Linked DNA regions of Homo sapiens: region 1 is linked to region 2. Evidence: fine-mapped expression QTL. Tissue or cell type: whole blood. Region 2 holds a variant in brackets; the other region holds the start of a gene. All regions are shown on one strand. Distances are between the middles of the regions.

Region 1 (6,520 bases), 57 kb before region 2:
GTTTTTCCCCTGCTGGTCTCATGATAGTGAATAAATCTCAGGAAATCTGATGGTTTCATAAAGGGCAGTTCCTCCGCACATGCTCTCTCTCTTGCCTTGCTGCCAGGTAAGATGTGTCTTTGCTCCTCCTTTGCCTTCTGTCACGATTGTGAGGCCTCCCCAGCCATGTGGAACTGTGAGTCCACTGAACCTCTTTTTCTTTATAAATTACCCAGTCTTGGCTATTTCTTCACAGTAGTATGAAAATGGACTAATACAGTAAATTGGAACTGAGGTAGTGGGGCTCTGCTATAAGGTTAACAGAAAATGTTGAAGCAACTTTGGAACAGGGTAACAGGCAGAGGTTGGAACAGTTTGGAGGGCTCAGAAGAAGACAGGAAAATGTGGGAAACTCTGGAACTTCCTAGAGACTTGGAGGGCTCAGAAGACAGAAAGATGTAGGAAAGTTTGGAACTTCCTAGAGACTTGTTGAATGGCTTTGATCAGAAGGCTAATAGGGATACGGACAAAGAAGTCCAGGCTGAGGTGGTCTCAGATGGAGATGAGGAACTTGTTGGGAAATGGAATAAAGGTCACTCTTGCTATGCTTTAGCAAAGAGACTGGTGGCATTTTGCCCCTGCCCTAGTTATCTGTGGAACTTTGAACTTTAGAGAGATGATTTAGGGTACCTGAGGGAAGAAATTTCTAAGTGGCAAAGCGTTCAAGAGGAAGCAGAGCATAAAAGGAAAACTTGCAGCCTGATGACGTGATAGAAAAGAAAAACCCATTTTTTGCGGAGAAATTCAAGCCTGCTGCAGAAATTTGCATAAGTAACAAGAAGCCACATGTTAATTACCACGACAATGGGAAAAATGTCTCCAGGGCATGTAAGAGGTCTTCCTGGAAGTCCCTCTCATCACAAGCCAGGAGGCCAAGGAGGAAAAATGGGTTTATGGGCTGGGCCCAGGGCCTTGCTGCTTTGTGCAGTCTCAGGCTGCTCACATGTGATATTGGGACTGTGGGTGCACGGAAGTCAAGAATTGAGGTTTGGGAACCCTGCCTAGATTTCAGAGGATGTATGGAAACACCCGGATGTTCAGGCAGAGGTGTGCTGCAGGGGCAGGGCCCTCATGCACGACCTCTGCTAAGGCAGAAGGGCAATGCAGAAGGGAAATGTGGGGTGGGATCCCCCACACAGAGTCCCCACTGGGGCAGTGCCTAGTGGAGCTGTGAGAAGAGGGCCACCATCCTCCAGACCCCAGGATGGTAGATCCACCAACAGCTTGCAGCATATGCCTGGGAAAGCCAGAGACACTCAATGCCAGCCTGTTAAAGCAGCTGGGAAGGAGGCTGTATCTTGCAAAGCCACAGGGGCAGAGCTGCCCAAGACCATGGCAACCTACCTCTTGTATCAACGTGAACTGGATGTGAGACACGGAGTCAAAGCAGATCATTTTGGAGCTTTAAGATTTGACTGCCCTGCTGGATTTTGGACTTGCATGGGCCCTGTAGTCCCTTCATTTTGGCCTATTTCTCCCATTTGGAATGGGTGTATTTACCCAATGCTTGTACCCCCATTGTATTTAGGAAGTAACTTAACTTGCTTATGATTTTACAAGCTCATAGGCAGAAGGGACTTGCCTTGTCTCAGATGAGACTTTGGACTGTAGACTTTTGAGTTAATGCTGAAATGAGTTAAGACTTTGGGGGACTGCTGGTAAGGCATGATTGCTTTTGAAATGTGAGGACAGGAGATTTTGGAGGGGCCAGGGTGGAATGATATGGTTTGGCTGTGTCCCAACCCAAATCTCATCTTGAATTGTAGCTCCCATAATCCCCAAGTGTCAAGGGAGGGACCTGATGGGAAGTAATTTAATTATGGGATCAGTTACCCTCATGTTGTCATGGTAGTGAGTTCTCACGAGCTCTGATGGTTTTATTTATCTATCTATTTATTTATTTTTATTTTATTTCATTTTATTTTTTGAGACAAAGTCTGGCTCTGTTGCCCAGGCTGGAGTACAGTAGCGTGATCTTGGCTCACTGCAACCTCTGCCTCCCAGGTTCAAGCGATTCTCCTGCCTCAGCCTCCCTAGTAGCTGGTATTACAGGCATGTGCCCCCACACTGAGCTAATTTTGAAACATGGGGTTTTGCCATGTTGGCCAGGCTGGTCTTGAATGCCTGACCTCAGATGATCTGCCTGCCTCGGCCTCCCAAAGTGCTAGGATTACAGGTGTGAGCCACTGCACCTGGCCTCTGATGGTTTTATAAAGGGTAGTTCCTCTGCACATGCTCTCTCACCTGCTGCCATGTAAGATGTGCCTTTGCTCCTTCTTCATCTTCTACCATGATTGTGAGGCTTCCCCAGCCATGTGGAACTGTGAGTCCACTAAGCCTTTTTCTTTAGAAATTATGCAGTCTTGGGTATTTCTTCATAGCAGTATGAAAATGGGTTAATACAAGTAAAGTCTCATCAAAGTGTGGGTATGAAGTTACATCTGGTCATGAATTTGAGGCATAATCATTAATCTTGTCAGACATTATCTTATGTACAGGAAGAGGCAAGGGCTAGGATCACCAAACTTACCTTTTGTAAAAATTCAGTGATTCAGGCAAGAGATGTGCAAACCTATTCCCTATCCTGCTTATGGTCTTCAAGGCATTCTTCCACAAGGCTGCTCACAGTCAATGAGTCAGGGGCTTTGTGAAATATTGCTGGCAAAGGAGCAGAATGAGCAAATGGCTTCTTATCTTTGCTACTTTGTTTCATAATCATCAGCATCCAATAGATATCTGTTGAATTAATGAATACATGGAAGATATTCTGGCAGTGTATTTACTTTCTAGGATTCACGTAACGGAAAACCTAAATTTGACTAAATAGCATGAAACCTCTCACAAAGTGCAATAGCAAAAGAAACAAATAAAAGGAAAAGAGAGACAAGAGAATGGGAAAAGCAATAGCATAAAATATGGCAAAGGCTAATGTTACTTATTTATAAATATATTATTCAAATTCATATGCAAAACATAAATATATAAACAAAGAATTTACATCAGAGGACACAGAGATAGTTTAGAAACACAAGAAAGACATCAGATCTTGATAGTAACCAAAGAATTATAAGTATAGTTACCTAGGGGTAACATTTCATACCAAAGAATTTAAAGGAAAAAAAATGGTATGGTTTGGTGTTGTGTATTCTGATAGTGCTGTAAGCTTGTTCATTTTGGAAAGCAACATCATTTATAGTTATTAAAATGTTTTGGAATATTTTGACCCCAAATTCCTAGTTCAGGAAAATTATACAAACAAAATAATTCAACAGATTTAAAAAGCCAAACACACAAAAGATACTCTTTACAATATTATTTTCATAGTAAAACTTAAAAACTTTGCATTGTGCAGCAGAGGGACAATTACTTTGGCTGAGGCATCAATAATGGATGGAATTTTATCTCACCATTAAATGTTAAAATTGTGAGGAAGCAGCGTGGAAACGTTTATGTCATACTAGATGAAATGCATAAATTAAAACTGAACTCACATAATAAAGAGAATGGTGGACCATACATATACACCAGCTGTGTCTCTTCCAGATAGGCTTTAGTTCCATAATTACAGAAGATACTCAAGAAACAAAAACGTAACTAGCTTCCCATGTTAATCCTTTCACCAGGTAGTAGACCCCAAGCCTCTAAATTGCAGCGCCCACCCACATTTTCCATTTATAGTTTATCCAATTAATCATCTTTTTGTGCCAAAACGCTTGTTCTTCCCACCACATCCAGCTTCATATTTTCAAAGAATTGGCAGCACTCGGCAAAATAAATAAATAAATAAATAAATAAATAAATAAAATAAATAAGGGAACAGAGAAATAAGTTTTTAAAGTTTAAGGAGTTACGGGTTTTCCCTCCACTCACCTTTCAATTTTTTTTCTTAAATGTTATACCTATTTTACAACCTCCAAACTGAAAATGCAGTTAAAAATAAAAAGGTCAATATCCTGCGTCTACCTTGTCCCGGACTCTCGAGCTCCACAAAACCGCAGAGTTCTAAAGCCGGACCAGAGGGCCACCTCGAAGAGGCGCGGATGGTGTCGCAAAAACCCGCAGCGCTACTTTACGGCACTGCCTCCGCCCCTTCAGGTGCGGGAAGTCTGAAGCCGGTAAACATGGCCGTCACCGACAGCCTCAGCCGGGCTGCGACTGTCTTGGCAACTGTGTTGCTCTTGTCCTTCGGCAGCGTGGCCGCTAGTCATATCGAGGTAGGAGTCAGGCTCATTTGACCACAGCCGGGAGGCCGGCTGTGAGCCCTCCAGCAGATGTCCGATACACAGTAGCTGAGGGACGCCTCCTGGAGTCAATCAGCCCCTGACCCAGGCTGGGTTTGAGGAGGGTATCACTGGGCACGGGTTAGGACACTGTTGGTCTGTTTCAGCGTTTTAAAACGATGAATTGAAATAATCAAACCCTCGGAGACAGAGGAGGACCTGATCCTTTGCTCCTACATGTGTGCAGTTCTTAGGTGAAATACGAGCAAGAGGCTCGTGAAATGTCAGTGTGCAGCAACTGCTTTCCTACTACTCAACTGCAGCCCTCTGTTTTGATAGGAGTCAGACGGAACTGGAGAGATGAGGGCAATTTTAAGAATCCAGATAATAGAATTTAGTGATAATTAGAACATGGGATAAATATAAGTGTTTATTAAAACTCTCAAGTTTCTGGCTTAGGGGCAACACGTCTGGGTTAAGAAATGGAAGAGAAAAGGGGTGCTTAGTTTTATCCTGGGCTCCTCCAGCTTCCCATTTTTAAACGTGGACACAGGATGTTCTGGTGCTCTATAATGCTTTTACTATTCACCATACTCTGATGATTCCTCAGTCCCGGTCTACAATCTAGATGTCTGGTATCTTTTTCAGGCCTGCATATCCAGCTGACTAAGAATCCGGGATAGTCAGGAGACATTTGAAAATCCGTGTGCAAAGTTTTATCTTCTGCTTATCCTACCTCCTCTTAAAAAGACACTGAAAAACTAAGCACCCCTTTTCTCCTCCATTTCTCAACCAGATGTGCTGCTCCTAAGCTAGAAACCTGAGAGTCTTAATCTCTTTATCCCATATTCTAATTATCACTAAATTTTGTGATCTGAGTTCTTAAAATTGCCCTCACCTCTCCAGTTCCACTGACTTAATTCAGGCTGTGATCACTTCTTGTCTAGACTCTTGCGATTACTTTATCTTGTTTTCCATAGGCCTCCATACTCCCTGAGTTTGGTGCTAGATTCGTCTACACGAAATGTAAGCCTGATCAGGTTATTCTTCTGATGAAATCTTTTAAATATTTATTAATTGCATACAGAATAAAGTCTAAACGTTATGACCTGGTGCTTGCCTACTTTTCCAGTGTTCCATATTGGAACCTCTTCTCCCCACCACCTGGGCACCTTGAGCTTAGACCAGTGGACTCCAAACTTTTTGAATACACACCCTATCAGTTAAAAAAAGATATTGAGCATGAACTTCATATATATTTATGAATTACTGTTAATTTATATATTTGATGTTTATATAGCATAATTTTTAGAGAACATAAATATGAGTAAATAGAAGTTCTGTTTCCCTCCTTTATTCTAACTTTGACTGCTTCATCTTGGATACTATTACTGTTTTTTGTAGTTACATAATTGCTGTGCTTTTTCACATTACAATATTTTATACATTGTGTTTCCTCTGTTCATGTGCTAAGATACAGTAAAGGCATAACCTCTGTAGAACGTTTCCCTATCTCTTACCTTTGCCTTTACTCTTGTAATTTGTACACTTGATACAGCACTCATTTACTATAACCCGTGTATGGTTTGTACTGTTATTCCATCATATCTCACTTAGAGATAGGAGCAACAGTTTCCTAAATGTTTTGCCTTGAGTCGTTGTTTTTTCCTTTCAATCTGTTCTCCAAATTGAAGCCAGAGTAACTTTTAAAAATGCAGTTCCAATCATGTCACCCAGGGACCTTGATGTTGCTCAAAAGATCACCTTAATGTTGCTCTAAACTCTCCACCATGACCCACAAACAAAAACCCTGCATATTTTTTGGGCCCTGACTACACTTCAAATTTTTTCTTTCTCTTTCAAACTTCTAGTTAGGCTAACTTTCTTTCAGTTTCTCAAAACCTTTAAGCTTTTTCTCACATTAGAGCTGTCTCCCCTCTGTCTGGAATTGTATTTCCTCTTTTCTTCATCTTTTGGATTTTAACCCAACAGTCACTTCTTTAGGAAAACTTTCCTGACCAGGTCAGGTCCCTCTGTTGTACTCTTATTATATTGTGTGTCTTTCCTTATCTGTTAAATGTATATCTATCCAATTAGATAGTAACCTATTTGAAGGCAGTACTATGGCTATTTTTGCCCAGCATTGTATTTGGAGCACTCAGGGCAGTGACTGGCATGTTGCCCAATGAGTGTGATGAATTAATGAATGTAATAATTATAGTGTAATGTGTTTGCATGCTCCTCTTTATTGAACTCTGGAT
Region 2 (5,000 bases):
CTCCTTGGCTGGTCTGGACTTTCCTCTGTGCATGCCCATGTTAATTTTTAGTTTCTTTCATAGCATTTAACTTACTATTACTTTATTGTTTGGGTATCTGTTGCCTTCACTGTATTTTGAATTCCAAGATGTCATTGATTATATATTTCTTGCTTTTTTTTTTTTTTATCACCAGTTGCCTGTCTTGTAGTAGTATTCGGTAAATATGGATGTTAATCAAAAGATGTTCTATAAATTTTTTGGAGGGCATTCCATTCAACTGATGATAAAGCAGGTGCAGAATGATTCTTAGATATCACATGTCAACATAGTTAATGACCCCTACTTAGTGGCTTTTCTCTATCGTGTTGCATTTATTTATAACTTTCAAGGCTTAATTTATAAACTTTATAAATTAACTCAATAGAGTTAATGAAGCCAGGAAAAATTTTATTTTACTTTATCTGAAAATTACAAGGAATTTTCAAGCTTTTATGGCAAACAAGATGAAGTGCAGTTTTTTGTAGCTTAGCTTTATTTGATGTACTAAACTAAAGGATTTATTATTATTATTTTTTGTTTGTTTCCTGATTCTGTTGGAACTCTTTCAGGGTAACTGCAGGCTTGGAACAAATTCCAGTAGTTGAAGATAGGATTTGATAAACTATGGCCTGTGAACTGGCTGCCTGTTTTGGAAGTTTTATTGAAACACAGTTGCATCCATTTGGTTTACACAGTTTCTGTGACTGCTTCCATACTACCACAGCAGAGTTCAGTAGTTGTGCTAGAGACAATATGGCTCACAAGCCAAAAATATTTACTACCTGATCTTTTGTAGAAGGTTGCCAGGGTCTGTAAGAGAATAAAAACGTTGATAATTATGATAATATGATAATAATATTTATGGAGGCATAGTATACGTCAGGCAGTATTCTAAATCATTGTGGCTATTAACTCATTTCATTCTCACAGCAGTGCATTGACTTAGGTGCCGATATTCAAGGTTGCTGTATGTGGTTGTGTGGGTTGTATAGTGCACCCAAGAATCTGGCCAGGGTGTTAAGTGGGAACTGAAATCTCGTATGTGCTTACACTTACTAAGCGATCTGCCCTACCACAGGGTTGTATTCTAATGGAAGGGAGGGATACTTTTTTCTCCCACAAAGGCATAGTCAACTAACCACTTGTAAGCCTGCAGGGCTGCATGTATCCAAGAGGAAGGTGAGGAGACTAGTTTTTTTTTTCTACTTTCATGCCCAGTTGAAAGTACCTTTTAAAAACCTGTGCAAAGCAACTGTATAAGTAAGCTAATGATAGTGTTGCAGATACATTTCTCACTTTATGGCTGAGGAAACTGAAGCATAGAAATATTAAATTATTTTCCTAAACTAACATGGCATAGTTACCATTTGAATCCAGGCAACCTGCCTCTAGATTGCATACAAATAGCACAATCTTCTGCTCCACCTCTTGTAGTAAAAATGTGGGACTAGCTAATGTCTTCAGCTTCTTTCTCATCAAAAATGTTTGCCTGGTATTTGAAACATTTTGTGAATGGAAACTCATTTCTGATATAATAATGGAGCCAGTGGAAGAGCATAAATATAGGTTTCTGTAATTGAATATTAGAAACCCTATTAAAGATATTATATCTGCTATTTTATATAGTCTATCATTCTCTTTTTAATTGGCATAGTAGAAAATTCAATTTGTTTGTTTTCATAGTATACATTTTAGAGTATAAAATAACAAGCGATGTCAAAATGTAATGAATGAAGTAAATGTATATATCTAGATATATGCAGTTTGCATTAAAAAATCTATTGATCTTTTTTACTCTTTATACAAGGGCATGGTGGAAATGGTTTCTTAAAATTTCAAGATTCTGAAGAAATTACCAACATAGAACTCGCGGATGCTTTTGAACAAATGTGGCAGAAAAGACGGTAATTAGCAAATTACTTCTTTTCATAAGCTATATTCATACCTAATTTTCACATGGTTCGTAGATTTGTAATTTTTATTTTTTAAGATTTTTAACTTATTTTGACAATTTCTTTGACTCTTTTAAATTTACATTTGTTATTTCCTCTGAACTGGGTTGTTTTTAAAAGAAAAACTGAGAGTTATTCTATAACATGAAATAGTTAACCTTTTAAGATTCCATCTCTTGTTATTTAGCATCTTTTTTAGAGGAAATAAGTGTCCCTCCAACCAAGTTAGCTATTATTATGGAGATTATGAACATCTGTTTATTTTTCAACTTGTACCTATTCTTTCTAGCTCATTCTTTGGCCCCTAATGTTATAGACGTATTTCTTCTATGGAAAAAAAAATCGCTGAAATTATGATTAGCATAAAATTTGTAACAACTCACATTAAGGATGATTGTTAGTAACCCT[T/C]GCTAAGCATCTCTTTAGTTGGAAGCTGTCATGCATATGACTGTAAGTGAAAAAACTTTTAACTTGATTACTTTCAATAAACACTTATAGGCTATCTTCCATTCCTATGGCAGAAAGTGGAATATGATGCTTATTCTGCCTTCAAAGTGTTTACAATCTAATGGAAAAGAGAAATATGTATACAATGATGCTACAAAATAAATACTGTAATGTTAAAATAAAAGCATAAGCAATGTGTGGAAGTGTTGAGGAAGCTTTTACTAGGCACTGATTATGTCTTATTCATAGCTTACAGTTATAGAATGCATACTGGGGGCTGCATACTGTATTTTACATCTATTGTCTCATTTAATTTTACAACTCTATGGGGTAGATACTATTATTATTCCCTTTTTACAAGTGAGTGAACTGAGGCACAGAAAGATTAAATAACTTGTGGAACTTTACACAGCTAGTAGTAACTTGCCAAACTTGACACAGCTAGGATTCATGCCCAAATGGTTCAGTCCTAGAGCTTGCTCTCTTGTTTACTCCACAACCTCTCCTAACTTTGGGTGTTTCTAATGCATAGGAGCCTCCACATATTTTGCCACAGAACAAATGTGTCATATTAATTGTGTCTCCTGTCACTTTCTTCGATGATACTGTGGTTCAAGATTCAATGCTTTGTTTTCTAGGTTCCATGTTAGCTGTTTACCTAGACCCAGTGTCTGAGAAAAACTTCCCAGAAAATATGTCTCCTCTCTACTTTAACTTTTGCCAGCTAGCCAGCTTATTGTGCAATGGATACCTGATTATATTATTCTTTCATTAAAACAACAACAAAAACAAAAACCTTTCATGGTTTCTCCAAACTTATAGGATAAGATCCAGACTTCATATGGTATCCTTTACAAATTGAACCTATTCTACCTTTTTGAAACCAATTTCCCTCCATTCTCCCAAATTTACTTTAAATCCTAGCTACACAGATCTGTTCCCAAGCACTTATACTTTTTTACATTATGTGCTTTTCTCTCTGCTGGAATGTCATCTTCTTTTCTCTGTAAAACAAAATAACATCCCTCATTGTCCGTATTGGGCATCACCTTTCTCTGATCTGCTTTTCTTTGCAGTTCCTCCTTAGTCCTTTCTCAGTGTTCATTCAACACTTTGATTTTGTTAGACTCTAGGCTATATGAGGGCAGGGACTATTGCATCTCCAGCATAATATCAGGCACATTGTAGGCACTCAATATATATTTATAGTACTCATCACGTTCCAATGTAGTTGTATGTTTGTCTGTGTTCCACTTAGAGTTTATGCTCTTTGAGTATAGTTACTAAGTCATACTTCTTTTTCTGAACCTAGCTCAATTTCTATGACAGCATGGGTGCCAAATAAGTGCTTGTTGAATGGAATATTCATTTAGATTCTGAATTATATGGCATAGACAAGGAAGAGGGAAAAGAGCTGGGGCAGCCACCTTGGGCACAATAAGACTCGCTGTGGTTTCCTTGGACAAATTTATACCTTTAACTTTTCTGAGGTCAAATTTCTGTTGGGAATTCTGCTGAAAACTTTTAGCTAATGAAATGACTAAGATATGATTTAAACATCTTACAAAAGTATTGTAGAAATATTAGTGTATGATTTACAGCATGATCCTTGTCAAAGATGTTATCATTTTTCTTTCAGCTACAATGAGCTACTGTTTATTATTGATACTTGCCAAGGAGCATCCATGTATGAACGATTTTATTCTCCTAACATAATGGCTCTAGCTAGTAGTCAAGTGGGAGAAGATTCACTCTCGGTATGTGCATTTTCCCCATTTGTAAACTGTGTCTTTGGAATGTGCAGCTATTTCTGAAACCAATTAAATGCTTTATGAATGTATCTGTTCTTTCTTAGACTAATACATTAGAAGGAAATTTTGGTTACATTTAAAACATTTTGTTATAATGATACTGTTAGAAATACTTTTTTTCCCCCTTTCCATAGCATCAACCTGATCCTGCAATTGGAGTCCATCTTATGGATAGATACACATTTTATGTCTTGGAATTTTTGGAAGAAATTAACCCAGCTAGCCAAACTAATATGAATGACCTTGTAAGTATTCACTTGATTTGATTATAGCACATAGGTATGCTAACCTTAATGTGAAAAGAAGTGTATTATTCCCTGCACTCCTAGAGGATCTTGTTTTATGTGTTGAATTATAGCTTTTAAAACTATTTGATATCTACCTTTTACCTGTATATTAGTATTTCTCTGTCTCTCTACAAGAGGCCTGATGTTTTCCTTTATTTACTCATTTTCTTTTCCTTACCAGAAATGTACTTTTTTTAGATTCAACTTTTGAAATTCTACATATTCTTCAGGGGCCACCTCAGATTGTGTCTCCTTCAGGAAGTCTCCCCGAATTCTTCCCTGTGGGAATTTCTTGTTTTTTTTCAGAGCCTCCATAGACCTTTATTTCTCCTTGGTAACATTTACCACAGTCTTTTATTGACCTTACTAATTGAATGTAAGTCTTTCTCACTGAATGGGAAACTCCTGGAAAAGAGAGACCTTTTCTTACATATTTTTGTGGGCCCTACAATTTATAGTATAGTCATTTGACAAGGCTTGTT

Evidence for each region. PIP is the estimated chance that this variant, and not a neighbour inherited with it, causes the effect.
Region 1: it holds the start of PIGK, and the variant in region 2 is fine-mapped to the expression of PIGK in whole blood (INTERVAL, PIP above 0.99).

The regions. Positions count from the first base shown.
Region 1 is chr1:77,217,043-77,223,562 of GRCh38, reverse strand. It overlaps PIGK (phosphatidylinositol glycan anchor biosynthesis class K), which reads left to right and starts at 4,133. Exons shown (of 11, transcript NM_005482.3): 1 at 4,133-4,253. The coding sequence starts at 4,161. It overlaps LOC105378808 (a long non-coding RNA gene), which reads right to left and starts at 4,043. Exons shown (of 3, transcript XR_001738109.2): 1 at 3,910-4,043; 2 at 2,570-2,775. RefSeq lists an enhancer at 4,340-4,449.
Region 2 is chr1:77,160,771-77,165,770 of GRCh38, reverse strand. PIGK (phosphatidylinositol glycan anchor biosynthesis class K) reads left to right here. Exons shown (of 11, transcript NM_005482.3): 6 at 1,829-1,925; 7 at 4,060-4,177; 8 at 4,366-4,476. Among named protein-coding and RNA genes, the nearest start is that of PIGK, 56 kb to the left of the region's middle. The variant T/C (reference allele first, on the strand shown) is at 2,382.